Linked DNA regions of Homo sapiens. The protein of the gene in region 4 interacts with the protein of the main gene of each other region in a pairwise test. Each region holds a gene or a part of one and is shown on either strand. Other genes may lie near its edges. The genes, in order: FARSA, PLEKHS1, FRYL and PDCD10.

Region 1 (7,027 bases), on a different chromosome or scaffold from region 4:
CCACCAAGCACTGGGAGCTTACTGCGGAGGGCGAGGAGATTGCCCGGGAGGGCAGCCATGAGGCCCGTGTGTTTCGAAGCATTCCCCCAGAGGGCCTGGCCCAGAGCGAGCTTATGGTAGGAGCTGCGGGGTGAATGGGGAGTGAGTGATGGGATGAAGGTGGCCCTCGTGCCCCACTCACTGCAGCCTCTCTTTTCCAGCGACTGCCCAGTGGCAAAGTGGGCTTCAGCAAGGCCATGTCCAACAAGTGGATTCGGGTGGACAAGAGTGCGGCTGACGGGCCCCGGGTGTTCCGAGTGGTGCGTTCCTGCGGGCTGGTCAGGGGGCAGGTGGACGGGCACATGGGCCCCTGGCCCTCATACCCCTCACACTCCTTATCCTGGCAGGTGGACAGCATGGAGGATGAGGTGCAGCGGCGGCTCCAGCTGGTCCGGGGGGGACAGGCTGAGAAGCTGGGGGAGAAGGAGAGGAGCGAGCTGAGGAAGAGGAAGCTGTTGGCTGAAGTGTGAGTGGGTGCCCCCTGCAGGCTCAGGCCCCCACCACCTGCGAAGCATGGTGGAGGCATGGTGGGAGGGAGACATCTTGCCCACACCAAGCACAGGTGTGGCCAGTTTCCTCCCAGCTCGCTTAATGCCATAGTTGTCAAGCCTACGTGCCTTGGGGTCTTTGCCCATGAGGACCCTTCTGCTGAGAACTGTTTTCCCTCTGATCTTCAAGATAGGCTCCTCATCAAGTCTCTCTCCTGTGTCCCCTTAAAGAGGCCACCCTGACAGCCCTCCTCTCCCCTTGAGTTCCATGAAGCCCATCGCCCCTAGTCTTCATCTTTGGTGCTTGTTCATTTCTTTCACTGTCCTTAGTGTGGTCCAAAGTTTAATGAACACACACCAGACAGGCCTCTGGAACCTAGATGGGCTAGGGGCCGTCCTCTCACAGGACAAATGTCCCCTTTGAGCAGACACAGAGTGGCAGAGAGAAGAGACTAGAGCTGGGATGCCTAACTGAAGTTCGGGCTCTGTCACTTAACTAGTTTTATGACCTTGGCCAAGTCACCTGGCCTTTGCTGGTCTCCGTTTCCTTATCTATAAAATAGCCTGGGCCAAGTGTGTGGCTCACGTGTGTAATCCCAGCTACTCAGGAGGCTGAAGTGTTAGGATCACTTGAATCCATGAATTCAAGGCCAGCCTGGGCAACATAGAGAGACCCCCATCTCAAAGAAAAAGGGGCCAGGCACGATGGCTCATGCCTGTAATCCCAGCACTTTGGGAGGCCGAGGCGGGCAAATCACCTGAGGTCAGGAGTTCGAGACCAGCCTGGCCAACATGGTGAAACCTCGTCTTTACTGAAAATACAAAACTTAGCCGGGTGTGGTGGCGGGTGCCTGTAATCCCAGCTACTCTGGAGGCTGAGGCAGGAGAATCGCTTGAATCTGGGAGGTGGAGGATGCAGTGAGCTGAGACCGTGCCATTGCACTCTAGCCTAGGCAACAAGAGCAAAACTCTGTCTCAAAAAAGGAAAACAAACAAACAAATAAAAAAAACTGCCCTCTTTCCGGGGCTTGTGGGGAGACTTTTGCAGAACAGAGCCTGGCACAGAATAAATCTGCTAGACTTTCCCTAGTATCATCACTCAGTCGTGTACTTAGCACCTTGAACAGACCCTGGCACACATTAGGTTCTCAGTAAGTGTTGAATGAATCAGTGAGTGAATACAGGGAGATACAGCATGGTCACATAGGAGGATTTCAGGTAGTGATAAATGTCAGGATGGAAATAAAGCAGAGTGACTTGGTAGGTAGCATGGGGATCCTCATCAGACGGGAGATCAAGGAAGTCCTCTAGGAGGAGATGGCAGTGGCGTCCCCTTCCTTCCCCTGGCCACAGGACTCTGAAGACCTACTGGGTGAGCAAAGGCAGTGCCTTTAGTACCAGCATCTCCAAGCAAGAGACAGAGCTGAGCCCAGAGATGATCTCCAGGTAGCAGGCAACCCCAGGGTCAGGGCAGGTGGGAGCTGGGGCAGGGGGCAGGGGCGGGCAGCCCTTACCAGGCCCTTGCATCCTCCCCCAGTGGCTCTTGGCGGGACCGGCCCTTCAAGCCCTACAACTTCTTGGCCCACGGTGTCCTCCCCGACAGCGGCCACCTTCACCCGCTGCTCAAGGTCCGCTCCCAGTTCCGACAGATCTTCCTGGAGATGGGGTGAGCACAGGGCTGGGGGCGGTGCCTGGTGCTTCTGCTGGGTACAGGCAGGGCAGTCAGGCTGTGTCTCCCACCAGGTTCACCGAGATGCCGACTGATAACTTCATTGAGAGCTCCTTCTGGAACTTTGACGCCCTCTTCCAGCCCCAGCAGCACCCAGCCCGTGACCAGCACGACACCTTCTTCCTTCGAGGTGGGTCAGCCCCTAGGGCCTCCCTGAGACATGAGAGACACCAGGCCACGGCGGAGCCTTTACAGGATGGGCATCCCATTTGATCAAATTAGGTCTAGAACTGGGCATGGTGGTGTGCACCTGTAGTCCGGCTATTTGGGAGGCCAAGGCAGGAGGATTGCATGAGCCCAGGAGTTCAAATCCAGCTCAGGCAACATAGGGAAGAATCTACCTCTAAAAAAATTAATTGAGTTAAATTAAAGTCCATCCTTGTTGGATGTGTCAAGCTCTGTTCTCATTATGCCACCTGCAGTCTTTTTTTTTTTTTTTTTTTTTTTTGAGACAGGGTCTCACTCTGTCGCCCAAGCTGGAGTGTGCAGTGGCATGATCTTGGCTCGCTGCAAACTTTGCCTCCCAGGTTCAAGCGATTCTCCTGCCTCAGCCTCCCGAGTAGCTGGGATTACAGGTGCATACCACCATGCCCAGCTAATTTTTGTATTTTTAGTAGAGATGGAGTTTTGCCATGTTGGCCAGGGTGGTCTCAAACTCCAGTCTGCCTCGGCCTCCCAAAGTGCTGGGATTACAGGCGTGAGCCACCGCACCTGGCTTTTTTTTTTTTTTTTTTTTTTTTTTGAGACAGTCTCATTCTGTCGCCCAAGCTAGAGTGCAGTGGCACGATCTCAGCTCACTGCAATTTCCACCTCCTGGGTTCAAGCGATTCTCCTGCCTCAGCCTCCTGAGTAGCTGGGATTACAGGCACCCGCCACCACGCTCGGCTAATTTTTGTGTTTTTAATAGAGATGGGGTTTGCCATGTTGGCCAGGCTGGTCTGGAACTCCTGACCTCAAGTGATACTCCCGCCTCAGCCTCCCAAAGTGCTAGGATTACAGGCGTGAGCACCACGCCTAGCCCAAAATTAATGAATTTTTGTTTTGTTTTGTTCTCACTATGTTGCCCAGGCTGGTCTCAAACTCCTGATCTCAAACAGTTTTGCCTCAGCCTCCCAAAGTGCTGGGATTACAGGCATGAGCCCCCACACCCTGCCTGCCCCCATGTCTTCTTTGGGCATTCCAGGCCGTGCACACCTCAGGGCCTTTGCTTATGTTCCGTCTTTAGCCAAGAGCTGTTTTCTCCCAGATCTTCAAGGCAGGCTGCAGCCTCAAATCTCTGCTCACGTGTCACCAGAGACAGGCCAGCCTAACACTCCCGGGCTCACCCCGAGTTCTACAGAAGCCCTTCTCCCCTAGTGTTCATTCTTCTGTCCCATTTCTTTCTTTCATTGCCCTTAGCACTGTCTGAAATGGAATGACTTCCCACAATGGGGTGGCCTTCCTGACCAAGAGGGCAGTTGAGGTCATTGGGTGCCGGCTTACCTGGCCAGAGGAGCAACATCATTCTTGTCATTATTGTCATAGCACCCAAAACTTACTAAGCACTCATCACATACTAGCCACTATTCTAATCTTCCTGCCAACTACTGGAAGCAGTACTGTTACCCCTTTTTACAAAGAAGGAAACTTGGCCAGCCTCAGTGGGTATAATCCCACTGTTTGGGAGGGCAAGGGAGGAGGATCGCTTGAGCCCAGGAGTTTGAGAACAGCCTAAGCAACATAGAAAGACCCATCTGTACAAATAAAATTAGCTGGGCATAGTAGTGCACGCCTGTAGTTGCAGCTACTCGGGAGGCTGAGGTGAAGGATTGCTTGAGCCTGGGAGTTTGAGGCTGCAGTGAGCTATGATTGCATCACTGCACTGCAGGCCAAGCAACAGAGCAAGACTTTGTCTCTTTAGGCCGGGCGCGGTGGCTCACGCCTGTAATCCCAGCACTTTGGGAGGCTGAGACGGGCGGATCGCGAGGTCAGGAGATCAAGACCATCCTGGATAACACAGTGAAACCCCGTCTCTACCAAAAATACAAAAACAATTAGCCAGGCATAGTGGCGGGCGCCTGTAGTCCCAGCTACTCGGGAGGCTGAGGCAGGAGAATGGTGTGAACCCTGGAGGCGGAGCTGGCAGTTAGCCGAGATCATGCCACTGCACTCCAGCCTGGGTGACTGAGCGAGACTCCGTCTAAAAAAAAAAAAAATTTTGTCCCTTTAAAAAAAAAAAATAGGCCGGGCGCGGTGGCTCACGCCTGTAATTCCAGCACTTTGGGAGGCCACGGTGGGTGGATCGAGACCATCCTGGCCAACATGGTGAAATCCCATCTCTACTAAAAATACAAAAATTAGCTGGGCATGGTGGCGTGTGCCTGTAGTCCCATCTATTCAGGAGGCTGAGGCAGGAGAATCACTCGAACCTGGGAGGCAGAGGTTGCAGTGAGCCGAGATCGCGCCACTGCACTCCAGCCTGGGCGACAGAGCGAGACTCCGTCTCAAAAAAAAAGAAAAAATAAAAAGGTCGGGCGCGGTGGCATGATCCCAGCACTTTGGGAGGCCCAGGCAGGCGGATCACTTGAAGTCAGGAGTTCGAGACCAGCCTGGCCAACATGGTGAAACCCCACGTCTACCAAATATAAAAAATTAGCTGTGTGTGGTGGTGCACTTCTGTAATCCCAGCTACTTGGGAGGCTGAGGCAGGAGAATTGCTTGAACCTGGGAGGAGGAGGTTGCAGTGAGCCAAGATCATGCCACTGCACTCCAGCCTGGGCAACAGAGCAAGACTCCATCTCAAAATACATACATACATACGTACATACATAAATAAAGCCCAGGTGCAGTGGCTCATGCCTGTAATCCCAACACTGGGAGGCCGAGGTGGGTGGATCACCTGAGATCAGGAGTTCGAGACCACCCTGACCAACATGGCGAAACCCCATCTCTACTAAAAATACAAAAATTTCCCGGGTGTGGTGGCAGGCACCTGTAATCCCAGCTACTTGGGAGGCTGAATCAGGAGAATTGCTTGAACTTGGGAGGTGGAGGTTGCAGTGAGCCAAGATTGAGCCATTGTACTTCAGCTGGGCCAACTGAACAAGACTCTGTCTCAAAAAAAAAGAACCCAAAAAAGCCACACACAAATGAGAAAACTGAGGCACGAGAATCACTTGAACCTGGGAGGCAGAGGTTGCAGTAAGCCCAGATTGCACCACCGCACTCCAGCCTGGACAACAGTGAGACCCTGTCTGAAAAAAAAAAAGGGGTGGGAAATGCTCGTTGACTGACCTGATGTTGCTCTGTCCTGCCCAGATCCAGCGGAGGCCCTGCAGCTCCCAATGGACTATGTCCAGCGGGTCAAGCGGACCCACTCTCAGGGCGGCTACGGCTCACAGGGGTGAGGCAGGACTTACCTGGTATGGAAGGGAAGGAGGCTGGGGACCCCTGGGCCATTGCATGGACTTCCCACCTTCCCTCCTGAAGGTACAAGTATAACTGGAAGCTGGACGAGGCCCGGAAAAACCTACTGCGAACCCACACCACATCAGCCAGCGCCCGTGCGCTCTACCGCCTTGCCCAGAAGGTGCGGTTGGCCCAGGCGGGGGCCCCAGTGGGGAGAGGGTGCTGTCAAAGGGACCTTCTGACCCATACCTGGGCCTGGCTCGGTTGTCACCCCTAGAAGCCCTTCACTCCGGTCAAGTACTTCTCCATCGACCGCGTATTCCGGAATGAGACCCTGGACGCCACGCACCTGGCTGAGTTCCACCAGATCGAGGGCGTGGTGGCGGATCATGGTCTCACCTTGGGCCACCTCATGGGCGTTCTGCGGGAGTTCTTCACCAAGCTGGGTGAGCAGGGGGGCAGGGGTGGGCCATGGTGGTGAGGCAGCGGGCAGGTGTGTTGATCACCAGCATTATCCTCCAAACCCCTGCTCTCCTGCCCGCCCCCCACTTCCTGCAGGTATCACGCAACTCCGCTTCAAGCCAGCCTACAACCCATACACAGAGCCCAGCATGGAGGTGTTCAGCTACCACCAAGGTCAGGGTAGGCCCTGGTACTGGGGTGGGAGGGAGGTCTCAGGCTACTATGGTTTGGCCTGGGTCCCCCCATTGCCATGCCTGTACCCCACCTCCCAAGCTCACCACCTAGACCCAGAACCTGTACCAGCAGTGCCCAGAAACTCAACACGCACTGCCCGTCTTTTCTGTCCTGCCTCTGCAGGCCTGAAGAAGTGGGTGGAGGTCGGAAACTCGGGGGTCTTCCGTCCAGAGATGCTGCTGCCCATGGGGCTTCCCGAGAACGTGTCGGTCATTGCCTGGGGCCTCTCCCTGGAGCGGTAAGTGCCCAAGTGGAAACTCGGGGTGTCCAGCTGCCTCAAATAACTCTCCAGGTATAGGGGCCTGCGTGGTTTCAGCACCACCCATTCATTCATCCAATGGACAAAACTTTCATCGTGAGTACAAACTGAATGCTCAGCCCCGTGCTGTGAACATGACAGCTTATGTCCCTCCCTCTGAATCTGGGGTCCCAGTGGAGCGAGAAGGATGATAACTAGCAAGACCAACAAGTACATCAGGCCAGGCGTGGTAGCTCATGCCTGTCATCCCAGTGCTGTGGGAGGCCAAGGCAGGAGGATCGCCTGAGCCAGGAGTTTGAGATCAGCCTGGGCAATAGAGCAAGTCTCCGCCTCTACAAAGAATAAAAACAGGCCAGGCGTGGTGGCACATGCCTGTAATCCAAGCACTGTGGGTGGCTGAAGCAGGTGCATCACCTGAGGACAGGAGTT
Region 2 (7,027 bases), on a different chromosome or scaffold from region 4:
ACTTGTGGCAGACAGAGCAGGCATCTTACACGGCAGGAGCAGGAGGAAGAGAGTGAGCGGAGAGGTGCTGCACACTTTTAAACAACCAGATCTCACGAGAACTTACTATCACGAGAACAGCGCCAAGGGGATGATGCTAACTCCTTCGTGAGAACTCCACCCCCACGACCTCACGATCCAGCTGCCTCCCACCAGGCTCCATCTCCAACACCGGGGACCACAGCTCGACATGGGATTTGTTAGGGACACAGATCCAAACCGTATCAGCATGTAAATGAAAAATTTTTAATACTTTCCGAACAATCTGGGTAACAGGAAATGAAATGTATTTGAATGTCTCTTCTAAGTGCTGAAGGTATTTTCAAATCCAAGTTCAACTATGAGGCTGGCATCTGGACATTTGTTTCCCAGAGCTGGTTTTAGATTCTTGGTTCTGCAACTGAACGGTTATGAAACTTGGAGAAACAAAGAAAATATGCCTTTCATCGCTCCGGGGCTCGATTTTTTCCATGTGAAGCATGGTAAAATACTCTTTCTGAAGCCTGTTTTTGCTCTAACACCCCCCGATTTGATTAGTGCTTTAGCTCTCTGCCTTTGTTTTCCTATTTATATAAAAGAATTTTATTCCTTTGGCCTTCCAGGATCAATTAGTCAATGGATCCATTAGTGAAGAACTTTCAACCTTGAAGTGCTAAGTAGTTCTGTTATTGCTTGTAGAGCAAGCTGATCTTGGCTGCATGTGATGTAAAACTGCTGCGACTTCTAAAATCGTTGCTGAGTCTTTAAGAGAACAAGATACTTATTGAATCCAAAAGGCCACTCTGTCTCAGCACTCTGGCCTGTGGGGTTGAAGAGAGGCAGGTGTTTGGGAAGGGGATGTTTGGGAAGGAGGTGTTGGGGAAGGAGTTGTTGGGGAAGGGGGAAGGAGGTGTTGGGAAGGAGGTGTTGGGGAAGGAGGTGTTGGGGAAGGAGGTGTTTGGGAAAGAGGGGTTTGGGAAGGAGGTGTTGGGAAGGCGGTGTTGGGAAGGAGGTGTCTGGGAAGGAGGTGTTTGGGAAAGAGGTGTTTGGGAAGGAGGTGTTGGGGAAGGAGGTGTTGGGAAGGAGGTGTTTGGGAAGGAGGTGTTTGGGAAGGAGGTGTTGGGAAGGAGGTGTTGGGAAGGATGTTGGGGAAGGAGGGGTTTGGGAAGGAGGTGTTGGGAAGGAGGTGTTGGGGAAGGAGGTGTTGGGGAAGGGGGAAGGAGGTGTTGGGAAGGAGGTGTTGGGGAAGGAGGTGTTTGGGAAAGAGGGGTTTGGGAAGGAGGTGTTGGGAAGGAGGTGTTGGGAAGGAGGTGTCTGGGAAGGAGGTGTTTGGGAAAGAGGTGTTTGGGAAGGAGGTGTTGGGGAAGGAGGTGTTGGGAAGGAGGTGTTTGGGAAGGAGGTGTTTGGGAAGGAGGTGTTGGGAAGGAGGTGTTGGGAAGGATGTTGGGGAAGGAGGTGTTGGGAAGGAGGTGTTTGGGAAGGAGGTGTCTGGGAAGCCTGATCAGCTATCACATCTCCCTTGGGAATCTTGCCTTCATGCAGTGAGTATTTGCAACTGTATGTCCCTTAACAAAGAAGGAATTGTGTGGACCACATCCTCACAGAACACAGCATGTATTACATGAAGGACTGACCCAATCTGTGTCTGTGGTGTTTGGGACAATAGCTGAGATAATAAGGCCTTCCAATTCCCCCAGGTTCTCCAATCATGCCACATGACCCTCTTAGCATCTCTGATACAATAACCAGAGAGGGGATAGTCATCCCCATTGTTAAGATGCAGATGCAGAAATTCAGAGGGGGGTGCCGACTGTCTCCTATCACATGGCAGCAGCAGGGGGCAGAGCTGGACAGTCCCAGCTCCATCCTGGTTCTGCTGCCATGGGTCTGGGGTGCGTTACTCCCTGGCTCCTTTCTGCTGGCTCTTTTTAATGGCCGGACTCCTCTTGGGAGCTCTGTTCAGTCTAGGCTTATCCAGCTGAGAAGGTGCAGCACTTTGGCATTTTGAGGGACACATACAGGATGCAGCATGGAATGTCTCTGAATTTGGGATCCTGCCGATGGTAAGCTTTAATTTCTAAAACACAAGAAAGAAGAAAGTTAAATGGCTAAAGATTATCTTTAAGATTGTTGCTTCCCAATCTGTCCTCATTCATACCCTTGGGAGCTGGTATTGAAGAAAGTCCTGCAGTGAACTGTAATATCTGGGCCAGAAATAGACAGGGATGACTTACTTGGCTAGTTAGGTGGAAGGTGGATTTTTATTTTCTGGCATCCATGGCCTGAAAAGGAAGCTGAGCTTTTAAGGAAGGATCCAGGTAGCATTGATGGTGCTCTAAGGGGTCCAATTGCACCAAGAATTAAAAAGGCCTCTTCAAACAAGTGAATCAAAATGAAACCACCAGACAGGACTCCCCCAGACAAGATTGGGAGGAAACTTAAACTTGATCAGTTTCTCCTGCAACCTGTCATGTCCTTCCCCTGCACACACCTTCTCCCCTTCCCTTGAAAATCTCAGTTCTCTCCCCTCCCAATCCCTGCCCCATCCCCACCCCAACCTCCACTTCCCTCATCTGTAGCATAACAGGAAGGAGAGTAAATGGGATTGGCTCAGGCACTTTAAAACATCAAGGGCCAATGGCTGTTCTTCCTTTGGTTCCATATCTCCCTTTTCCAATATTCTTTTTCCTTCCAGGGACTATGTGTTTGAATTTTAAAAGAGCAGTGGATACCCATCAACACAAAGAAATCAGGAATGGAGGCAGTGGGAAAGTAAGGGAATTTTCTATCTTCCAGATAATCATGAAGATGAATACTGCATATTTCTCAATAGCATGTAGGGGCTGTTATCAATTAGAAAGGGAAGGCAGAACGAGCACAAGAGAAATGCAATGACTCCACAGTCTAGAAAGGCAGTCAGGATAAACTGCAGTCAGCAACACCCAGGTACAGTTCCTGGATCTGCTCACAGGCAAAAACCCTTTTCTTGGCTTCTGAATTAATGCCTGGATCTTTGGGTCAGAGTAGTGTTTGGTAACTTTCAGAAGAGTTCAGAAGCTTATATTGACCACTTGGCCCCAGTGTATGTGGATCCTTTTTTTTTTTTTTTGAGACAGAGTCTCACACTGTTCCCAGGGCTGGAGTGCAATGGTGCAATCTCGGCTCACTGCAACCTCCGCTTCCTGGGTTCAAGCTATTCTCCTGCCTCAGCCTCCCCAGTAGCTGGGATAACAGGCACCCGCCACCATGCCCAGCTAATTTTTTGTATTTTTCATACAGACGGGGTTTCACTATATTGGCCAGGCTGGTCTCGAATTCCTGACCTCATGATCTGCCCACCTCCGCCTCCCAAAGTGCTGGGGTTACAGGTGTGAGCCACCACACCCAGCCCAGTGTGGATCTTTGGCAGAGAAAATGTACTATAGTTACCAGATTGTTGGACTAGGGCCCTGAAATCTACTTCTTTTCCACCATGCAGTCTCCTATCCAGTCTTCAAAACCTAAGCCAAACACCACTTTCTTTGAGACACCTTCCTGGCCTCCTTCATGTAGATTTACTCCATTCTACCTCTGTGATCCTATGGCCCTGTGTTCATATCTCAGGGCACACACTGTATAGCAAGTAGCACATAACATGCCTGCTTCATCCACTAATCTGTGAGCTTCAGCTCAGGCTGAGGCCATTTTTGTAGCTCTTGAATTTAGCACAGTATACAGCACCCAGCAGATGCTCAATAAATAGTGAATGGGCCGGGCGCAGTGGCTCTCGCCTGTAATCCCAGCACTTTGGGAGGCCGAGGCGGGCGGATCACGAGGTCAGGAGATTGAGACCACGGTGAAACCCTGTTTCTACTAAAAATACAAAAAATTAGCTGGGCGTAGTGGCCGGCGCCTGTAGTCCCAGCTACTCAGGAGGCTGAGGCAGGAGAATGGTGTGAACCCGGCAGGCGGAGCTTGCAGTGAGCCGAGTTTGCGCCACTGCACTCCAGCCTGGGCGAAAGAGCGAGACTCCGTCTCAAAAAAAAAAAAAAAAAAGAAAGTGAACGAATGTGTACTTGCCCTGCCACTAACTAGTTATATATCTTAGACAACTCATTCACTTATCCTCACTGGAATTACTCATTTAGGGTAATGAGTAATAGGGATGGCACAATTTGTGTGACCAATGGGATTATTACGTAGTGCAGAAGAGATAAGATGTGTTCTTAATATAGATATGCTACACAATCACAAAATTCCTAGAGCTGGAAGAAATTTGGAAATCATCTAATACAATGGTTTTCAGAAATTTGAAGCCAAAGAACTGTTTTTTAAGGAAAGCTAACAGGAAAGTCCAATATTTTGGACTAATCTTTTTTTCATAAAAGATAAAAGATAAATGTAAGCTTCTCCAGTTGAAGACCCAGCATACTCTCTCCTTCCTCTCCTCTCCTTTCACCTCCATCCTGGGGATGCAAGAAGCACAGTTTGAAAACCAGCCTCTCACTTTAGTGAGAATAAGCTGAAGCCCAGAGAAGGCAGTGAATTTCCTAAGGTCACAGGGCTAGTTAGAAAGAAAAGTAGACCAGGGAAGGAATTAACACATGAAGACTGCAGTGATATGCAGGACAATAGCTAGTCCTTGAAAAAACAACATACTTAGTGCATACCCATATAATATTAGGGGTGGTCTGTTGTTGTTTTTCTTTTGAGACAGGGTCTCGCTCTGTCTTCCAGGCTGGAGTGCAGTGGTGCAATCATAGCACACTGTAACCTTGAATTCCTGGGCTCAATTGATTCTCCTGCCTTGGCCTTCCGAAGTGCTGGGATTACAGGTGTAAGCCACCGTGCCCAGCACCACATATTATGTTTAATTCTTGCAATATTCTATGAGGAAGTTAGGGCTGTGACGATTTCTGAGATAATGAAACTGAGGCTTTAAAAAATGGGCTTGAATAACATTCCATGGTCAGTTGTAGTAGAAGTAAAAGTAACTAGTAGCTTTATTGAGCACCTAATATGTGCCAGTCACCTTTGTAAGCACGTTACACATATTACCTCATTTAATTATCCAACAACCAGCACCATCATTAGTCATAATTTTACAGAAAAGAAAACTGAGGCACAAATTGGTTGAAGGAGCTGTTTTGGAATCCCTGCACCAGTCTGATTCCATGCAAGCTCTTTTTGCTACATCATGCCGATCTGAGGTCCTGAACCCAGGTGCTCTGTCTCTTAGCTCAGTGCCTTCTCCAAATGCTACTTGATATGAAAGAATCCTGAAAGAGTCCTGAAAGCACATTCTGTTATTTGCACTTGATGGTGGAAGAATGAGGAACCTTATTTGTATTCAGGGTACTTCTCAGACTCCATCTAAGACCCTGATCTTTTTCCTTCTGGTACTGATTTGCCCTGTTCAGGGCTGGTCAGTACGACTCACCTCCTTCTGGATGGACCGGGTAAGAAACAGGGAGACCTCCTCCAGGCTCTGGGGTTTCAGGTCATTCACTGCCAGAAGATGATCTCCGTGGCAAAATATGCATCCCAAACGTGGGGGGCCTTCCCACTGAGACACACTGCAGTGGGAATACAACATCCAATACCAGTGTGAGGCTCAGCTGGCCAGGAGGGCAGGGCACGCAGGGTCTCCTGATTCTAGGTCACGTGGCACCACCTCTGAAGTAGACTATCTCCTTCTGTTTAGAATATTGTTTCCTCTGTCACTACAATAGGAGCCTAACCCTTCCTCCAAAGCCCAGCTCAAATTATACCACCCTTACAAAGGCCCATGAAATCCTACATCCCATTCCTCTGCTATAATTCATCTCCCCTACCCCTGGACTTCTATTACATTGTGTGAGTACCTGATTTGTTACATTTTTAAATAAAATGCATTTTACATTTACTTGTTTTTGTGGCTGTCTTTTTCTTACCAGGTTACATGACCCCAGAAGTATGATGTCACCTTTTTGTTTGTTTTGTTTTTTAATTTTTAAAACCCCATGGTTCCAAGTAAAGAAAGAGTGCTCAGCGTTTGTTGGAAGTGAGGGTGTAATGATTATACAATGAATATATAATGAACAAATAAATGAATTAAGGAATGTAGCAGCTCAGTTATGGAGGAGTCCACAGTTTCAGTCAAGTGTGTATTGAGCCTTAGATTGTGGACTATTTAAAAAAATGGAAGGTGTGTTTCCTCCCTTCTTAGAACTTATAAGACAATTAATGTGTAGTGTTTACATTAAAGAGTTTTCTTCCCTTATGAAGATGAAATCTTCCATCAAAATAAATTACAAAGTGTTTTAAAAAAATGCCATATCAAATAGACAGTGATTGCTTTAAGAAAATTCTCTGCCACACAGTCTTTTGTGTCTGTGTCTGTGACTAGCAGTTTTTGTTTTTTGTTTTTTTTTAACCTTGTGTCTGGAAGTCTTAGAAGCTGATGTGCTTTCTTCTTTTAGGCCTCTGATTCTTGTTGACTTCACTAATTTCACTCATTCATCAAATACTCATTGTACAGTGATTGGAAATGATGTCCTTGGGCCACCTGTATCCCAGCCCCTTCTTCCTCCCTTAGAGGAGTCAGAAATGGCTGCTTCCTGAACTTTTGGGTCCTGTTATTCCCCCTGCTCACCTCCAGGCTGACTTTTCTGCACAACAAGACCCTGATTTCTGCCTCAAAGATTTTTTTGTAACAACAGCCAGTCAACAGTCCAAGCTCCCCCGCCCCAAACCTAGTCAGTGTTGCCAAATACACTGTTTCAAGATGTAATTGTTCTCTTCAAAGCTTCCAGCCCCATTTATAATCCACAACAGTCAAATCTCCAACCTACCATATCCGTCCTGTGGCTTCTGTGAGAGCAAGATAGTTGATGACATCAGGAGGAGAAAGGAAAACGTTCAGTTTCTCCACTTGGCTTTCATCGGGGATATTACTATGAACAAGACATTTGTAAAAGTCACATCAGGCAACTGACCTTGGCTCTCAACTGTACTTTCTGAGTAGACTTTTGGCCTCTATTTCTGAGAT
Region 3 (7,027 bases), on a different chromosome or scaffold from region 4:
AAATTCTGAATGAATATTGTGTTTGTCTTGCCTTAGAAACAGTGAAAGTGAAAATGTAGGTTAGCTATGGAATTTGTCAGGTTGAGAGGCTGTTTTGGTTTAGAATGAACTATCTTAAGCAAAGGAGTTAAAATTAGCTGATGCTAAGGACAAGAGTGTCTGAAGAGAGAACTGAAGGAAGAATGACAAGGTGGTGGGGGTGTGGGCATGGTGGACACCTGTACCAGCACACATCCTAGGCGATGACATGACATTCTAAACAGTTACATGATCTCTTGAGACCCAGCTGGACTCCTCTACTTTCTGTGCAAAAGCCTCTAGCAGCAGCTCAGCAGCCACAAAATCTGTGTTCACGGCGGCCGCTATTTTGTGTTGATGATCACTCATATTCATCTTGGAAGGGCTGTCACGGATGCGGGGGTTGGGAAAAAGGAAGAGGCATTGCTACCAACTACCAGGGCAAACCAAACAGGTCAACTGCTTTCAAGAACTAAATGTTATGAGAATTTAAGTTGTTGTTATTGCTTTTTTCTCCCACTCAGGTCAATTAGGGATGGGAAATAAACTATTTCTATTGCTAAAATAGGTGCTGTGCAAAGATCCCAAGCCAGCTAAGTCCACTATCTCTTGAGCCCAAATGAAATAAAGGACCCACAGCAGAACTCTGCAATCTCCCAGATCCCAGTGTTGGAGCATGGCCAGTACTTACACTGGAACAAGATCTTGATGTAGGCGACAAGCAACATGTGGGAGACTAGAAAGAGTTTTGCTCGAGGCACTGTACCACCTGCTCCTATGGTTAGGGGTTTCGCTCACGGAAAACTGCCTATAACTTTATCCCTGCCTATTTTTATTATTAAACATATGCCAATACACAAAATACAATGTATTCAAGAAGTCCTATGTCTACTAAGAAATACTTTTAAGTCACATGTGAAAAGTCGTCCCTCTTGTATTTTTTTCTTTTTGATGGAGTAGGGAGCGAAGGGAAGGTCAGGTATAAAACCCTATAAGGACGCCGTTGATAGAAAAACCTAAATATTGTGACTGATCAGAATTAAGAGTTCTTATTGAAGAAAAAAATATTTCCTATGTAAAGACATGTCTGGTTTTGATTTAACCTGTAATTTAATAAATTTATAATTTTCTAAAAATTGTTTCTGAAGAAATGATTGACAAATAGAAACTACTAACCAGTTCATTGATCATACCTGAGAATATGGCGAGAGTTAGCTCAGGATACGCCCTTGCTAGTTCCTCGGACAACTGATAATATGAAACAGAATAGAGATGTGGTAGAGGAGACAGCTGGCTGAGTACTCCATCTGTTCTCTGAACCTCCAATTTGTGAGCATAGCGAAACATCTTCGGTTCCAGAATCTATAGGAATGTGATTCCATCAACTTAGGTTAAGATTTTATGGGTTCTCTAAAGTTTAACTATAATTTTATAATTTTTAAAAAAACTCTTCTCCCCAGCTGAGTGGAGTGGCTTATGCCTGTAATCTCAATACTTTGGAAGGCAGAGGTGGGAGGATCACTTGAGGCCAGGAGTTCCAGACTAGCCTGGCCAACATAGCAGGACCTCATCTCTACAAAAAAATTAAAAAATTAGCCAGATGTGGTGGTGTGTGCCTGTGGTCCCAGCTACTCAGGAGGCTGAGGGTGGAGGGTCACTTGAGCTCAGGAGGTAGAGGCAGCAGTGAGCCATGACTGTGCCACTGTACTCTAGCCTGGGTGACAGAGTGAGACCCTATCTCAAAAACAAAATGAAACAAAACAAACAAAAACTCTTTCTCACTAAAAGAATTTACATTCCTCGTATTTAATGCCAATGATCCAGGTTAGTAACACAGTCTGAAAATAACTCCAGCAACTTAATATACGATTACTTGAAAAAGATTTACCACTTTTCTCGCACAAAAATATGGTAGTACAATATATGCATAAGTGAAAAAAAAAAACCCTTCAAGGAGGACCTTTCGACATTACACTATTTAAAGAGCTGTACTGCTGAACTTTCCTCTTAATTAACAAAGGCATTAGGGTATAATTCCTAAGATGGATCTACTGGCATCAGAACCACTTCAGAGCCTTTGGAAAAAGCACCTACTTGAATCCTATTCTTAGCCCTTGGTTAAGATGGAAGAATCTTGCCCTATTATGAATTAGTTAAGTATTGCATACTAACAATATATCCGTGTTTGGTAAGTTAACTTTCTAAGTTATTTCTCCTCAACCTAATAAAGAAAATTTACATGAGAATATGATAAAAAGAGCTAATTATTTTTCACATGGCTCTCCAAAAAAATTTGGACACACATTGTTCTCATCTGCTGAACAGAAATACTTACATGGACACATATTTATAAGTACCTTCATACACATACACACACATTATCATAAATAATCCTTCTACAATACACTTAGGAATAGTCTGCATTACTTATAAATTTAAATATCTATATTATCTTTGTCTTATACTTCTAATAATAATTAGGCCTTGATACCATAACTTCTTTACTATAAATAAAGCTAAATACTATTATCAGTATGCTTTAATAGCAAGACTAAATTATTGGGCTTCATTAAATCCTGAGTAAAAAAATATTTAAATTCACATGTTTACAAACCTGTAAAAGTTGCATAGCAACTTCATAGATACTTCTAGAAGAATCAGCTGCTTTAAACAGTATCAGATTTAGAAGCATCACTGTGTCACATTGATAATCCCTAGGAATAAATTTTACATATTAAGTAAATAACAATGTTTAGAGGCTTTTGCACCATTTAATAAATATGATATGCAAAGGGCAAGGCTTATAGGCATCTATCTTCTAAGCCTATGAGGAGACTTGGTTTTTTCAAGGCAATAGGTACAACAACAGATGCATGGTGATAATTGTCCTTATTTTGGTTAAATTCCATTAGAGCACACGTGTTCAACCTTTTGGCTTCCCTGGGCCATATCAGAAGAATTGTCTTGTGTCACACATAAAATACACTAAAAACAGCTGATGAACTAAAAAAAAAAAAAAAATCCATGCATAATTTTTGTAATATCCACCACCACAGATAAGCAAAAAGGTCCTCACATTCAAAGGGTTAGACACGGCTGCATTTGAGCTTAAGAAAAGAAAATACAGTCAACCCTCTGTGGATCAAAAATATGAGGGAAAGGCCAAGCGCGGCAGGTCATGCCTGAAATCCCAGCACTTTGGGAAGCCAAAGTGAGAGGCCAGGAGTTCAAGACCATCCTGGGCAACATACGTAGTGAGACCTCGTCGCTACAAAGAATTTAAAAATTAGCCAGGCATGGTAGTGGGAGCCTACAGTCCTGGCTACTCGGGAGGTTGAGGTGGGAGGATCACTTGAGCCTAGGAGTTTGAGGTTACAGTGAACTATGATCATGCCACTGCACTCTAGCCTGGGTGACAGCGAGACCATGTCTAAAAAAAAAAAAAAAGGAGTATACGGGAGGATTTGCATAGAGTAAATACAAATACTACAGCATTTTATATAGAAGGCTAGAGCATCCATGGATTTTGGGATCTGAGAGGGGTCCTGGAACCAATCCCCCACAGATACTGAAGGACAACTAAACTGGTGTCTTCCTATTTTTGAATTCAAAAGAAAAACTTTTCTTTAAGAAAACAGAACAAAATGAAACAAAAAACCTGTATCTAAAGTACCTGTTCTGGAAAACATTAGCAATGGCTTTAAAGCAGCCGGCCGCCACCCTCCCGGAGCCCGTGTAGCAGCGGTCCACAGCCCAGTACATCAGGTTGCTCTGATCAGGGTTCAGCTCCAGTAACAACGTAACTGCTTCACAGCCCAGCTGGTGAACCTAGGTAAAGGTTGTGAAATTGCCCGAGAGAGAACGTTATATATTTTTTGTCTATTTCCCTATAGTTCTTACTAAAGTAATATAGTGCATATATTCATTGTAATTAATAGAAAAATTCCATCTCCTTTTGTTCACCTCCCTCTCATTTTATTCAGCCAGCAGAAAAAACCACACAGATGAACTGAATTTGGCCTCTCGCTTTTTACGCGAGCCTCTCTAGTATGATTTTGTCTTCCAACAGAGCCCTGAAGGCAGTTAATGAATATGAATAGTGATTAGGTGCTTTCAGAAAAATGAGTCATTAACCTCTCCAATTATTTTTATCAAGCTTTATTCTTGTTTTTGATAACCCAATAGAAAAACTGTTCTGAGGGGAAAAAATGTAAGTCCTATTTTAAATTGTGAAGTCTGTATATGTACAATATGAGAGTAAGGAAGGCAGAGTGTGGAGGGCAAGGAGGAATGATTAAATGGAAAGTGGTTAAAAAAACGAAATGAAACATAGCAAATAACATATTTTTCCCATGCAGCTCAATATGTTCTATGCTGGTATTTTATTTATTGACTTAGAACCCTGTTGAGAGACACATACCACTGTATTAATCCTATAATATAAAAAGGGAAATGAAAATTATTCAAATTAATGATACATAAGAATTGGAACGTTTTTACATTATGGGATCCTATTTAACTTTATATAATATGCTTTTTGCATATGATCCTAACCTATCTTATTTTTTTAAAAGACTTGTTTTTAGTGCAACATACATTAACTGCAAATAATACAATGACAACTTATTATGAACCTTTAAGGAAATTGTCATAATTACCTTTTTGTCCAGAGAATCCAAAATGTTATCCAACCATTTGTACAAATAGCCATCTGATGAAAGTCCTACATTATCTGCAACAGGGCCACAACACAGTACAGCAGACATAGCCTTCAAATAATAATATTAGAATTACATTTAACAAATTTAAGAGGTTAAATGTTGGTTGCTTAATGAGAAGAGGCAAAATACTTATCTAGTCACAATACTTTAATCTTTTTTCTTTACAAATTATTTTTTAAAACTGAGAAATTTATTATGAGTAAGTAAATATGATACCAAATTAGACATGGAGTTTGAACAGTACTGGAAGGGAAGATAAAAAGACCAAGAAAAAGTAATTAAGTAAGGGAAAAAAGGCATTTCTTTCAAGTAATCCTAAGTTCTTTAAGATAATGGTGATCAAATTTGAGTAGATTCTGGAACTGTTTTTCATTGTATTTTATGTATTTAAATATAACTTATGGTATAAGTTTTGAATATGGCAGAAAAACATTTTAATACTCTCAGATCCTCTTTTTAATACTAGTGACTGAGAGACTTAAAAATACTTAACTCTGCTCTTAAGAAAAAAGAAATCAGGTTTCTAAGTAAATACCTTTAACGCACAGTATTGATGTCTATTAATTTGCATATTTCTATCACTGTATCTGTCCAAGGGCGTAAACATGATGCTAAAAGGACCTGCCCAGTGACTGAACAGCATAAATAGACTGTGACGAAGGCTCTGTTGAGGAAAAATACTTCTTCTCTGGTGCACTGTGAATAAAAAAAGATAGAAAACATTTATTTCCATTTCTTTTTGCTTTAACTTTTATACCAACATGTTATTGAATGTGTAATAGTGTAAAAAAGAAAGCAGAAGTTTTCATTTTAAACTATCAAAAACCTCCGCGGTAGCAGGGATCATTTATATATATGCAAATCACAGAAACAAAGTTGCAGTCTGTGTCACCCTGTCCCAGCATTACATGACATAGAGCATCTCTGCAAGCAGAAATTCCATGGCAGGCTCAATGGCACATGAAGGCTGGCACAGAGGTGGGGCCAGGAGTCCATTTCTCCCTGGGCTATCACTGGCTATATGGTAAGATTGGCCAAGATTTTAACACAGACACACCTCTGTATCTTGGTTCACTGGTAAGTAAGGGCTTTGGACGAGATACGTGTTTTCAAACTTTCTATTTTTTTTTTTCAGCAGGAAAGCTGCCTTTTCCTGCTAAAGGAAGCTTACATGTAATCTCAGTATATAAAACAGATAAAAGGGCAGTTCAGGCCTAGTGTCCAAACACATTCTGCTGCTTTCTGCGGATGGCATCAGAGAACCTCAGGGCTTTGAGAAACACCAAAGTTTGAAAACCACTGGTTTAAATGATCTCCAAGGATTTTTTTCCCCCATTTTGAAATTCTACTATATAATTTCTCTACATCTATCCTTCTTGAAGAAACTCAGCAGTATCACAATAAACCAATGTGGAAGTTGTAAAAAAGTGTTTAGTAATAGACTAAACCACATCTTTATATTAGTGAGCTTCAGATCAGAAAATTTCGAAAAAAATATGCTCTTTTCCTTTGACAGTGTCATTTTCCTTTCAAAGATGAAAACAAGGCTCCTACAGTTGAAATTGACATATGTAATTAAGTGCTTAATGACCCTGTTATAAAATACAACCCATGTTCTTTAGGTATCCACTGTCTGTATATACTATTCAAAATAACAATGTGACTTTAATTTTTCAAAGAGAAAAAGAAACACTTATAGTGTATGCCAAAGGCTAGTCACATTACTTCTTACAGTTGTAAATAATTTAACTTTTAAAAATGTAATTGTGTATATTAATCTTCCTAGTATCTAAACCAGTATCTGTCGATATAGACCCTACTCAATAATTGGAACATATCTGGTAAATCAGTAACACGGTATCCTTGTTACATTTTGTATTTATGGCCTATACTCTTTTCCCATTATTCAAAAGTATCTTCTTAATTTTATTCTCAATTATCATGAGACACTGCACTCTGCTTATTGCATCTAAAACAAGGCTATCCTAAAGAGCTTATTCTATTGATTTCTCCAGGTTTTTGTGTCAGTATCCTGATTATTACTGAAATTCTATGCTGGGTTGCTTTTTTATTTCTAATCAGTGACAATAATTCAAAGGGAAAACAAACTCCAGCCATCCAGGTTATGCTGACATATTTTTCCAGTATGTTCATACGTTACTTTATCAACTTAGATTATTAAACCTCAAGGAAAGAAAAAATATGACGGTTCCTTAATACTCAATAATGCTTTAAGAAACTGAAAATAATACCTGGAACATTCTGAATAATATTCGCCACTAAGGCAC
Region 4 (7,027 bases):
GCTTAGTAATAAATATTTTATAATGATTACATGTTGAAATAATATTTTGGATGTACTATTAAAATAATTTTACCTGTGTCTTTTTACTTTTTTTTAAATGTGGCCGCTTAATATTACATAGGTAGCTCATAGTTGTTGCTGATATTACATTTCTGTTGTACAGCCCTACTCTAGAGACTTACTGTACATGTTGAATGCATTCTTTAATATAAAACTTTTATCTGGTCCTCCATCCCAAATATATATTATGGTGCCCAAAACTTTAATTTTTATTTTTGCATTCCTTCCCATCAGTAGCTCAAATAACCTGTGTTTTAGGTAAAGTATTTTAATGTTTAAATGTGGAATACATTTATATTTTAATTGGAGTTGAAACTATAAGCCCATTCTGCTTGATTTCTTCCATGTCACACAAGTTTATTGATAACACTCTTTTCTGGTAGCACAAGTCATGTCACTAGGTATCTCATATTACTTTAATAATCTACATTACGTATGTTAGAATAGAGCTTTTTTGATTTAATATTCTGTGATTCAAGGTGAGTACATATATATTTAGTAGCTTCATTAAATTGCATCCTGCCAAATCATTGGGTTAATGAAGCAACACCATAATCATTTTCTTTTTTTTTATTGTTGTTTTCTTCTTTGAGTGTCAGTTTGGCTTTGGAATGGCATATTTGGTCATTAGGGAGACATGATGCTATCTTAAGCATCTTTGTGGCCAAAAGAAGAAGGAAAAGTAATCTGTACAGTAGTATTGCTAAGAGAAAAGTCAATATTTCAGCTTTTCTAATGCCAGGAACAGAGAGAAGAAGACCCTGTCCGAAGGAGTAGATAGTATCTTCAATGACATTCATAAAATAAAATAATAAATTTCCTGAGGGTTTTTCTTGTAACATCCTAACATATAAGCTAATTATCTAACACTTAAGTACAATTATGTGACCGTGATAGATGTGGTTTGATCCATGGATAAAGTTTGTTGTCTATGGCATAGATTACTTATTTTGGAAGAAAACAAAGTAACTAATTTTACACTGATGTATTTTTAATTATCACATTTAGTTTGTTACATTTCAAGTGAAATTGAAGGAGGACATGTTAAAAATGTAAAGATGCTTGTATTTTTTAAATTACAACTTTTGAAAAAGATGAAAGAAACCTCACCAGTCATAAAATCTTTTATATTCATAATTCCAATTATTGGTCCGCAACGACAATAATTTTCATCATGGTTTTTGTTATTTGGAGGGAAAAGAGGATTAAAATAGTTTTTCCCAAGATAATACCATTGAATATTTTAATGTATATACAGTTAACCTTTGAACAGTGTGGAGGTTAGAGGTGCTGACCCCCTGCAGAGTTGAAGATTTGAGTATAAGTTTTGACTTCCACAAATCTTAACTACTAAAAGCCTACTGTTGACCAGAACATCTTACTGGTAGCAAAAACAGTTGATTAACATATGTTTTGTGTATCCTATATATTACATACTGTATTCTTAAAGTCACAGAAAAGAAAGTGTTATTAAGAAAATCATAAGAGAAAATATATTTATTATTCATTAAGTTGAAGTGGATCATCATAAGGTCTGCATCCTTGTCGTTTTCACATTGAATACGCTGAGGAGGAGGAAGAAGAGAAGGGGTTGGTCTTGCTAGCTCAGGGATGTCAGAAGTAGAGAAGGTGAATGGGGAGGCAAGAGAGGCAGGCACACTTAGTGTAACTTTACAGAAATATGTTTAATTTCTGACTTATTTGCTTTGTCATTTCTCTAAAAATGTTTCTGTACAGTACCAATCTTCCAACATTTGCTTTAGTTTCAGTGCTTGTATCAGAGAAGGGTCCATGTCATAAAGCAGCCTTGAATAAAGAGAACTCTTCTGCTGGGTTGTCTAATGTCCATTTGTTTTCTGGCACTCCTTTGTCTTCTTCCTCATTGTCCATTAGCTCTTAAATTTCTCTGATATCCATATCTTGAAACCTTTCATCCTCTACGTTTTTTTTAACCATATCTACAATCTCTTTCATGATTTCCGTGGCTCTGTTGTAAATCCTGTGGAGTCATGCACAACATGTGGACACAGTTTTCTCCAGCAGAAATTTATTGTTTTAGGCTCGATGGGTTTTTCTATAACAACAGTAGCATCAGTGGTGTAATTCTTCCAGACTTTCATGGTATTCTTTCTACCAAGGATTGTTGACAGCCATTTCCATAGAGGCCTTATGGTTCCATGTATAATGAGCTTTAAAGGTTCTTGATCCCCTGATGTAGAGGCTGATTTAGAGGTGTGGTGTTTTGGGACAAGTAGGCCACTTTGATGCCTTTCAGTGTTGAACTCATGGGGTTCTGGGAAGCAAGGGACATTATCCAGTATCAGAAGAATTTTTTTGAACAACAATAATAATAAAGGCTAGGTGCGGAGGCCCATGCCTTGTAATCCTAGCACTTTGGGAGGCTGAAGTGTGAGGCCAGAGGCCAGAAGTTCAAGACCAGCCTAGGCAACATAGGAAGACCTTGTCTCTAATTAAATATACAATACATATATATGTGTGTGTATGTATATGTAGATATCTCTGATATCTATATATATATCTGATATCTCAATATATATCTGATATCTGTAGATCTAGCTATATAGAGATATATAGGTATCTCTATAGATATATATAGACAATCAGAAGAACTTCAGAAGACCATCCCTTCCTGCCAAGATGCTTTCTAACCGCAGAAACAACGCATTGATGGTACCAGGCTAGAACAAGGGTTCTCTTTGTCTAGGTCTTCTTGTACAACCACAAGACTGGAAGCTGGTGTTTTTCTTCTCCCTTCAAGGCTTGAGGGTTTAGCAGCATTATAAATAAGGACAGTCCTGATCATAAACCAGACTTCATTTGCACAGAACAGTAGAGTTGTCCTATCTCTTCCTGCCTTAAATTCTGGTGCTCACTTCTCTGCTTTACTAATAAATATTCTTTGTGGCTATTTTTTCCTTCAGAATAGGGCACTTTGATCTGTATTAAAAACCTTTTCAGGCAGATATTTTTTTCCTCAAAGATTTTCTTAATGGTGTGTGGGGACTTATTTGCTGCCTCTTGGTCATCAGAATCTGGGTCTCCTGTTATCTTGACATTTTTTAAGCAAAACCTCTTTCTAAAATTATCAAACTATCCTTGGCTGGCATTAAATTCTTCAGCTTTAGACTTTCCTTTTGCTTTAAGTTGTCATAGAATGACTTTGCTTTTTCTTGAATCATATTAGGGTCTATAGGTATGCCTTTCTTATAGATATCCTGCACCAACATAAAAGCTGCATTTTCAACAGGAGACAAAAAGGTATTTCACAAAACATGCAAGGTTTTTGTACCTGCTGATGTAGCTGCAGCAATGGCTTTGTTTCATGAATTTCCTTTTTTTTTTTTCTTACAGTGAGTCTTAGACTGTATTCAAGCAATTCAGTATCATGCAATACACCTTCTTGTAATGTCATGACTTTGCTTCTTGAGCACACTTCCAACATCACTAGTGGCACTTTGTCGGGTCCCATGGTATTATCCCATGTTTAAAGTATTGCACTAAACACGATGAGAAAAATATGTGAGGGCTGGGAGGTATTACTTTGTACTGGGATGTGCAGTTTGCTGGAGAGATGAACTGTTCACATGGAGTTGATTAGAGTCACATGGCGTTTTAATCATATACTTACTAATACTTGAACTGACTGCAATAGCAACAGGAGGTGGCTTCAAACTTATTACATATACACGTGTACTACAGTTAATTTTGTGCAGTTATGATTTAATATTGCATCTGTATATTTGTTTATATTTCTTTTAACTGCAAATAACACCATGTACAGTCTGTTTGCGTGTGAGTTTTGATAAATTTTAACTTTTTAATAATTTGTATCTATTTTATAGTAAATACTAAAATAGACTAGTGGATAACTATATTTTATGCATTCATAACATGTGTTTTTATTATTTTTTTCACTACTTATAGGCTACTCAGTTTGTCTATAAGTTTTTTCAAATTGTTGCTGATCTCCAAAAATTTTTCCTATATATTTATTGAAAAGTATCTGCATGTAAATGGACCTGAGCAGTTAAAACCAGTTCTTCAAGGGTCAGCTATATTCTACTTGATTCCCTCTCCCCCTTATCCTCTATGAGAGGTTCCGATAGGTTGTCCGTCTTCCAGACTGAGAATCACTGATCCACAAGAGTGTATGTTGCTGCCCTTCGGTTTATTTTTTTCTTACAGCTGGATTCTTTACAAAGATTAGACACCCTACAGGGTTCATGTTGTATTCTGAGGGAAAACCTAAGAGTTGTAGATTGTCTCCCTGATTTAAGACCATATTTATTCATTTTGTCAGTCAGAGCCATTTGGTAAATTCAAGCTTTTGAAATAAGAATTAGCTTAACCAGGTTTTTAGCCAGGAGGTACTGAGACTACTCCTTCCAAACTATGTACTGAGGTACCTGGTGGCCCATAGCAAATTCAGAGGGGTGCCACGAAGTATTTTAAAATTGTGAAGGTGTACAGTGATACTCAACATCTGTTTGACACTGCATGGACTCCTAGCTTGAGATGGATTGCAATTTAGCATATTGGATTGTCCTTCACTGCTTTCATTGGTGTTAGATCATTGAGAAGCTGGACTTTTTGGCCAGTGCTATGATCTAACAGAAGTACCAGAAAAAAATATATCTGCAAGAGGAAATGAGAGGGGCAAGGTCCAATCTAAGACCAATGTTTGAGAAATTATGAAGTGCCCAGTAGGCACACACATCCCAGTAATAAGTGACAATAGTTATTTAAGAACAGAGTAAAAATTGTTTTTTTCAATTTATGTGTATTATTTTTTTAAAGGCTAGGTAGTTAGGACACTATACTTATTAAGTTGTTTAGACCTAAGTATTTAATAAACAGCACTGTGAGGTGTATCTTTTGGCACTAAGGACACTGAAAACTGAGAAAGTTAGGGACCTTTGTGAGACTTTTGTAATGCTCTAGCTTTAGCATTTTGGGGTCCCAGACCAGCTTGGTATTGAAAACTTTATTCTCAGACTTTCAGCATTTTAACCTTTCAGTACTTTATTATAACTTAATCAGAGATATGCTTTTCTTTTTCTGTCCCCTGCAAGCACATAGAGAATGTTCCCCCTCTCCCCAAGATAATTCATTATGTAGGAAGATTTATTGCTAGATAAGATAAAGTATTGTTACTGAATGCTACATTATATGTAATTTTGTGGCAGTTCACCGCATTAATGCTATAACAACACATCTTAAGCCATATTTGGACATCTTATAAAGGAAACTCCTTTTTTAAAAAACACAGTTTTTTTTGTTTTGTTTTGTTTTTAATACGAGGTCTTATTCTGTATCATAGGCTGGAGTGCAGTGGCATGATCATAGCTCGCTGCAGCCACGAACTCCTGGGCTCAAGCAGTCCTCCCATCTCAACCTACCAAGTAGCTGGGACCACAGCCACACCCCACCATGCCTGGCTAAAAAGTAGATTCTTTTTAAAATATATATCCATGGAAGGAAAAGTCAACATAGGCTGTAAAAGAAACAGGATTCAGTCAAACACAGTTTATTGTTATTAATCATCTATCAAAATGATTTTCCTGAATAGTATCTGACAGCATTTAAAATGATCCGAAGATTGGAATAAATGCGTGTATTTTCTTTTCTCATTTCATCCCACAACCCTTCAGTTTTTGATACTTGAGATCTAATGAGAAACAAGATGTTATAATGGAAAGAGCAATAGGAAGAGAAGAAAACTGTATCTGCAGTGATAATCAATGGAATTGAAGAGGCGGAGGTTAAGTGTGCTTGACACATAAGGAAACAAAAAGATTGCCATCTGATTAAGATCGTAAATTGTGTTTCTATTTTGCTGTTTAATATTAGGGCAAAAAGGAAAGAAAATCATCAGCATAATGATTAAAATTGGCAGGCATCCTACAGGAAACAAACATCAAGTGTGATTACAGAATTTACTGGGAAAAACTGAAATCTGAAGATTAACTCTGGCTTTGGTAAACTCAGAACTCTATGCCCAGTCTTGAAATGGCTAGAAAATTTTAGTGTCTTGGGGAGTCTAAGTAACATAGAACCAATGCAAACTCAATGAAACAAGCTCAAAAGGTAGTAAAAGGTTTCATGATGTTCTAGAAACCAGTGAAGGAAATATTCTTGCTACAAAAATAAAATAGGAAATGAAAATCATTGTGTGGGAAAATAGTTAAGGTATTATTATATAGGTTCAGTAAAACCTTCAAAATAAATCCTTTTTTGTTTTTCCTGGCATTCTCTTAATATAAATGGAAAGAATATGCAAAACACTAGTCAGATGAGTTATTGCTTGATCCTTGAGTTGCAGTATTAGCACATTAAAAAAAGCTTAAATTCTCAAGATATTTAAAGTAATGAGAATAGCAATTGATAGATTACTAAAACATATATAATCCTTAATTCTATCTTTGTTATTAGTTCAATTGCAAAAGAGTATAAAGAAGAGTAGAAAATACTAAGTTCTTTCTGTTCAAATGGAAAATGGAACCTTAGTCATAGTAAAGAGTCGGGTGCACAAGCTCTAACAAAGCCTTAGTGAATGCTATCATGACACCTGCTTTACAAAGATTTCTGCCCTTAAAAGTTATCAGTGTAAGACGCTCCCAACAGATTCTAAACAATTAAACTTTGGCTTTAAAATGTTGATTCCTTATCTGTATTTCAAAACTAGTTTTCTCTTTATTATAGGCTGAAAAAGAAAATCCAGGTCTCACACAAGACATCATTATGAAAATTTTAGAGAAAAAAAGCGTGGAAGTTAACTTCACGGAGTCCCTTCTTCGTATGGCAGCTGATGATGTAGAAGGTAACGGACAGAAGAACCTTGTTTAAGTTATACAATTGTTAAATAGCACTTCCTCTAAATCATTATTATTTGACCAAAGGATCTTCCTTCCCTACTGTTTTCCCTCCCTCCCTTTCACTTATGATG

What was found.
Region 1: the proteins of PDCD10 (region 4) and FARSA interact in binary tests that used the Homo sapiens proteins (3 or more experiments, as listed by UniProt).
Region 2: the proteins of PDCD10 (region 4) and PLEKHS1 interact in binary tests that used the Homo sapiens proteins (3 or more experiments, as listed by UniProt).
Region 3: the proteins of PDCD10 (region 4) and FRYL interact in binary tests that used the Homo sapiens proteins (3 or more experiments, as listed by UniProt).

Annotation. Positions count from the first base shown.
Region 1 is NC_000019.10:12,923,701-12,930,727, reverse strand, and holds part of FARSA (phenylalanine--tRNA ligase alpha subunit), read left to right. Parts: coding exon 1-116; intron 117-181; exon of another isoform or gene 182-200; coding exon 201-299; intron 300-386; coding exon 387-505; intron 506-1,880; coding exon 1,881-1,973; intron 1,974-2,064; coding exon 2,065-2,193; intron 2,194-2,270; coding exon 2,271-2,386; intron 2,387-5,553; coding exon 5,554-5,638; intron 5,639-5,724; coding exon 5,725-5,824; intron 5,825-5,920; coding exon 5,921-6,089; intron 6,090-6,201; coding exon 6,202-6,279; intron 6,280-6,462; coding exon 6,463-6,577; intron 6,578-7,027.
Region 2 is NC_000010.11:113,775,670-113,782,696, reverse strand, and holds part of PLEKHS1 (pleckstrin homology domain-containing family S member 1), read right to left. Parts: exon of another isoform or gene 6,933-7,027; coding exon 6,831-6,932; intron 5,574-6,830; coding exon 5,438-5,573; intron 5,288-5,437; coding exon of another isoform or gene 5,057-5,287; exon of another isoform or gene 4,974-5,056; intron 4,705-4,973; exon of another isoform or gene 4,643-4,704; intron 2,096-4,642; coding exon 1,916-2,095; 3' UTR 1-1,915.
Region 3 is NC_000004.12:48,560,257-48,567,283, forward strand, and holds part of FRYL (protein furry homolog-like), read right to left. Parts: coding exon 6,992-7,027; intron 5,436-6,991; coding exon 5,275-5,435; intron 4,788-5,274; coding exon 4,677-4,787; intron 3,847-4,676; coding exon 3,692-3,846; intron 2,733-3,691; coding exon 2,633-2,732; intron 1,381-2,632; coding exon 1,212-1,380; intron 1-1,211. UniProt on the Homo sapiens protein: Plays a key role in maintaining the integrity of polarized cell extensions during morphogenesis, regulates the actin cytoskeleton and plays a key role in patterning sensory neuron dendritic fields by promoting avoidance between homologous dendrites as well as by limiting dendritic branching.
Region 4 is NC_000003.12:167,696,883-167,703,909, reverse strand, and holds part of PDCD10 (programmed cell death protein 10), read left to right. Parts: intron 1-6,783; coding exon 6,784-6,901; intron 6,902-7,027. UniProt on the Homo sapiens protein: Promotes cell proliferation. Modulates apoptotic pathways. Increases mitogen-activated protein kinase activity and STK26 activity. Important for cell migration, and for normal structure and assembly of the Golgi complex.